Linked DNA regions of Homo sapiens: region 1 is linked to region 2. Evidence: fine-mapped expression QTL. A gene starts in region 2. The other region holds a variant in brackets. All regions are shown on one strand. Distances are from middle to middle. Region 1 has its middle 2.8 kb from the start of GEMIN4. Region 2 holds the start of GLOD4 (glyoxalase domain containing 4).

Region 1 (2,500 bases), 27 kb before region 2:
TCAAGGCTGATTTACTAATACCCCAGCACCACAGAGGGGAGAGGGACTCTGTCCTCCTAAACACTAAAGTCAAGTCCAAAAGCCCCCACTGGAACACAGGGCCTACCCGGTTCATGTTTTGAGGGAGACCAAGCTTTCCGTGATGATAATGTGATGAAACAATTGATGCGCCAGAACACAGCAGTTTAGAAACAATGGAGCAGATGGTGTCAAAATCCCAGCCCCAGAAAGGCTCACCTAAGGCCGGGCAACCAAAATGTTCCCGGGACTATTCTGTACTTAACCCTGGTTTCTGCTTAGGGGACGGTGGGACAATATGCATATGGATGTCTATGTGGGATTTGTTGCAAGAGCACAACACACCCCTTGACCTATGCAAGTGCCAGAGTGTCTGAGCCCAGCTTCTACTCCTGTTAATGATCACAGGAGCCTCATACACAACCATTGTGCATGGCGGCTGGAGTATGGAGTAGTAAATGGTATCCAGAAAGGCAGGTCTACGGTGGCATATGGGATTTCCTGGTACTTCTTCTTTAATAGAAACTATCTTCACAGATCATGACATCAGGTCAGCTGCAGTTCTCACTGGGACCAATAAACAATAGAAGCAACAACCATAAAGACTTAAGAGGACAAAGGAAACCAAACCTCACTGTGTGTCTTCAAGATCTGTTCACATAGTTGCAGGAAGTTGCTGTAGACAAAGTACATTACTAAAGAATGAAGCCCACCCAGGACATCACAGCAACGAAAGAACTATTTCTGGTAACTGTGGACCAGGTGAGAGCCACACTGTAGAACAGCAGTGCTGCCCTCTCTTCTTTGGCGAATGTTATGAAGACATTCTGATGCACTTAGGATCATGATTCATGTTAAATGTAAATTAATTGTAAAAATAATACATCTTGCTCCAAAATGTGGTGACAATTTAGAAGCTGTCCACATAGCCAGACCACTCTGTAAATCACAGAACCTAGAAAGTAAAAATGTGCCATAATTAGGACAGCAGAAAGTAACAGTAAAATAAAGTTTTAAAAAAAAAAACAGAAAATAAGGATTTATCTATTTGTATTTGCTTAAGAAGAGGTTACCTATAGGATGCAGGGGGAATGGGATTGATGGGCATGGGGTATACTGTGAAAGGAAAATAAAATCTTGGGACCAAATTCACTAAGCGAAAAGGAAAAGTTAAGCTTGGAAATTGAGTCATGGAATATGCAAAAAACTTCCTTTTGTTCCTAAACAGATAAGCTACAAGACAGAAGGCCACATATCTCCCCAGGTGGTCTCCCTCACCTGACAATATAAATTAACAGCTTATCTTCATAGGTAAGGGACAAAGACAACACCAGAAACCATCCCTCACCAGCCGAGACAAAACATAGATGTACTGAGCTGAATGCATAACTGTTCCTCTGCCTGCTGCTTTCACTGTAACATATAGATTTGGTGAGCAGTAAATGTAGATTTACTGAGCTGAATGC[A/G]TAACTGTTCCTCTGCCCGCTCCTTTCACTGTAACATGTAGATTTGGTGAGCGCTAAATGTAGATTTACTGAGCTGAATGCATAACTGACTGTTCGTCTGCCCGCTCCTTTCACTGTAACATGTAGATTTGGTGAGCACTAAATGTAGATTTACTGAGCTGAATGCATAACTGAGTGTTCCTCTGCCCGCTCCTTTCACTGTAACATGTAGAGTTGGTGAGCGCTAAATGTAGATTTACTGAGCTGAATGCAAAACTGACTGTTCCTCTGCCTGCTCCTTTCACTGTAACATGTAGATTTGGTGAGTGCTAAATGTAGACTTACTGAGCTGAATGCGTAACTGTTCCTCTGCCCGCTCCTTTCACTGTAACATGTAGATTTGGTGAGCACTAAATGTAGATTTACTGAGCTGAATGCAAAACTGACTGTTCCTCTGCCTGCTCCTTTCACTGTAACATGTAGATTTGGTGAGTGCTAAATGTAGATTTACTGAGCTGAATGCAAAACTGACTGTTCCTCTACCCCCTCCTTTCACTGTGACATGTAGATTTGGTGAGCGCTGATCAAAGCCTAATAAGAATGTAACCACTTATCTCCCTACCTACCCTCCTGTATTTTTCCTTTCCCTCTTCCCTCCCTTCCTGCTCTTTCCCTTTTAAATACTTGTTAGGAATAATGCTCAAAATCCTAAGGAAATAGAACACTCGAACAAAGGATTCTTAGCAAAGCAATTTTACTTCTGTGCAGAGGGGTGCCTCCTTGGCCAGTTGTCATGAGAGCACACCTGAACAAAGGGGCACGAGAGCCTTTGTTCCTGACACAAGTCCTGCCCCTCTACCCTTTCCCCATTGGCCGGGGTCAGGTCGTACAATCTAAACTAATCGCGCTTGGCTAAACATTTGATTTTTTTAGATAGGGTGGGCCCGTAAAAGAAAGCGGAGAGGAAGGGGAAGGGGTGTCTGTAATGAGCTAGAAAGTTAGTCCTCTTTCCAAATAAGGAAAGGAATGTGAGCTGG
Region 2 (3,025 bases):
TATACATATAATAAGGTGTTGAATCTTTTTTTTTTTTTTTTTTTTGAGACGGAGTTTTGCTTTCGTCATCCAGGCTGGAACACAATGGTGCGATCTCGGCTCACTGCAACCTCCGCCTCCCAGATACAGGCGATTCTCTTGCCTCAGCCTCCCGAGTAGCTGGGATTACAGGCGTGTGCCACCATGCCCGGCTAATTTTTGTATTTTTAGTAGAGACAGGGTTTCACCATGTTGGCCAGGCTGGTGTCCAACTCCTGACCTCCAGTGATCCACCCGCCTTGGCCTCCCAAAGTGCTGAGATTACAGGCGTGGGCCACCGCGCCGGCACGTGTTTAATCTTTGCAACAACCTTTTGATCGACGAGGAAATACTAACAAGGGACAGCTCTGTGGTTTCTGCTATCGAAAGTTTGGTGGTTTTTCACTATCAAATTCTGACTTCCATTACCATCATCTACGTACAAATCCAGTTCCAACTCCCACCCCAACCCAGGCCATGAGCTCTAATGGAGGATATATATCAGGGTCATTTGCACCTTTGTTGCCAAAACTCAACGTAGTACCCTGAAAATAGCAGATATTTTAAAAATGACCTGACGAATTCAGATCCCCGTCTATTGCACCGTCTATACACTAAACCGCGCTCTTGCACCTTTCAAGTCTTCCTTAGTGGTGTGTTCCCTACCTCCCTGGCTTATCAAAGGAGGTCCCCAAAACCCAGTTCCCCAACCAACTGAATCCTGCAAATAACAGCTCCTCAGGACCCGAGACAGACCGCTTCTGGGTGCTGTTGAAAAGCAGATGGGTTGAGAGTTGGAGCATATATTCAGAGACTGAGTATCCGAAACGGACTATTCAGACCAGCCTTGCTAGAAGCAGAACTCTGAATACGCTGATTTTATCTACATCAAAGGCTCCAAACCGGAAAACACAAATATTAACTAGAAAGCATTATATAACATTTTATTTACCGTCTTTTCCGGTAGACGGTAAGCTCCACAAGGGCGGGGCTCAATAAACGTTTACGAGTGGCTTAAATGAAAGGACGTGCGTGGGCACACCGCGGGGACTAATCGTGTTAGGCCCTTCTCCAAGGCCTATGATCCCCAACGGCAACTCGCCACGCTCCTGAAGCTGAACACCGCGCAGGGCCTAAGGTCGGACACCCTCCGGCTTAGGTTCACGACACACCCATTTTCCCCTCCCTCCGCCAGGGCCGGCTCGGGCGCCGGTTCCAGCCTCGCGCGCCAGCCCCTGTCGGCCCCGGCCTGCACCTTCATCCCCAGGACGTCCCGATAGAAACGCGCCGTCTGGAAGCGGTTTCCCACTTTGAATACGAAGTGCAGAGCTCTGCGAGCAGCCATGATTCCCGCCGCACGCAGCCGTCACGCGCACCGTACAGCCCAGTCCACGAAGGGCGCCACGGGCCGTGACGTCACTAGCCGCCGACGGCGCGCTTTCGTGACGCAGCCCGGGTCTCAGGGAACATGGCGGCGCTGGTGAGACCCGCGAGGTTTGTCGTGCGACCGTTGCTGCAGGTGGTCCAGGCTTGGGACCTTGACGCGAGGCGCTGGGTCCGGGCGCTGCGGCGGAGCCCAGTGAAAGTGGTGTTTCCTTCCGGAGAGGTGGTGGAACAGAAGCGCGCTCCTGGGAAGCAGCCCCGCAAGGCACCATCTGAGGCCAGTGCCCAGGAGCAACGAGAGAAACAACCGCTCGAGGAGTCCGCATCCCGCGCTCCCAGCACCTGGGAAGAGTCTGGGCTTCGCTACGATAAAGCTTATCCCGGGGACAGGAGGCTGAGGTGATGTGGTTCTTGAGCCTGTCGAATGTTCTCGTTTCCCTTCCCGTCGCACAGCGGAACCTTAACCTCCTTCCGATGGAGGACTTCTTCCAGTACAGCCCGCTGGTTTTTGTATTATGCACAGAGGGCCGAATAAGCGTCTTTGGAATTAGCTTCTGTTTCTCCTTAGCTCTTTGTTGTTGTTTTTGTTTCACCATGTTAGCCAGGCTGATCTGGAACTCCTGACCTCAGGTGATCCGCCCGCCTCGGCCTCCCAATGTGCTGGGATTACAGGCGTGAGCCACCGCGCCCGGCCCTCTCCGTAGCTCTTTATTTCTGTTACAACTAAGCGTGTCTCAGTAACAAGGATGTTGATAGTTACCTGTTTTTTTTTTTTATTTCCATCTACAGCAGTGTAATGACAATAGTAAAGTCCAGGCCATTTCGGGAAAAACAAGGGAAGATCCTGCTGGAAGGTCGCAGGCTCATTTCAGACGCTCTCAAGGCTGGAGCTGTGCCAAAAATGTTCTTCTTTAGCCGTCTAGAATACCTAAAGGAGTTGCCAGTCGATAAGCTGAAAGGTGTCAGCCTCATTAAGGTGAAATTTGAGGATATCAAGGATTGGTCCGACCTCGTAACGCCACAAGGAATAATGGGTTAGTGATTACCCAGTGTATCTTTTTTTTTTTTTGTCTTGTTCTGTCACCCAGGCTGGAGTGCAATGGCGCGATCTCGGCCCACTGCAACCTCCGCCTCTCGGGTTCAAGGGATTCTCTTGCCTCAGCCTCCGCAGTAGCTGGGATTACAGGCGTCTGCCACCATGCCCGGGTGATTTTTGTATTTTTAGTAGAGGTGGGGTTTCACCATGTTGGCCAGGCTGACGTCGAACTTGTGACCTCAGGTGATCCTCCTGCCTCGGCCTCCCAAAGTGCTGGGATTACAGGCGTGAGCCACCATGCCTGGCCTTACACAGTGTATCTTAAGGTGTGGAGACCTAGGATTAATTTCTCATACTTGTCTTAGGACAGCAGCATTGAAATGAAATTCAAAATGTTACAATTAGAAAAATATAATTCTCAAACCTGTGTATCTTAGAGTATTTTCAATGGAAATTGAAACCCGTTTTTCACTATCATTTGTGTTGTGGCTCTTTATGGTCTCTAGGAAGAACCACTATTCCTCAAACCTTCTATTTTTTAGATTACTTCTTCAACTTTCTATGTCAGATTAAAAATTAAGAAAGCGT

The links. PIP is the estimated chance that this variant, and not a neighbour inherited with it, causes the effect.
Region 1: its variant is fine-mapped to the expression of GLOD4 in whole blood (TOPMed, PIP above 0.99). The same link has a PIP of 0.9 or more in blood mononuclear cells.

The regions. Positions count from the first base shown.
Region 1 is chr17:753,853-756,352 of GRCh38, forward strand. It overlaps a transcript of GEMIN4 not described here and the pseudogene DBIL5P. Among named protein-coding and RNA genes, the nearest start is that of GEMIN4, 2.8 kb to the left of the region's middle. The variant A/G (reference allele first, on the strand shown) is at 1,485.
Region 2 is chr17:780,893-783,917 of GRCh38, forward strand. It overlaps GLOD4 (glyoxalase domain containing 4), which reads right to left and starts at 1,388. Exons shown (of 9, transcript NM_016080.4): 1 at 1,274-1,388. The coding sequence starts at 1,363. MRM3 (mitochondrial rRNA methyltransferase 3) reads left to right here and starts at 1,461. Exons shown (of 4, transcript NM_018146.4): 1 at 1,461-1,800; 2 at 2,191-2,435. The coding sequence starts at 1,487. RefSeq lists enhancers at 319-418, 1,419-1,768, 1,440-1,988.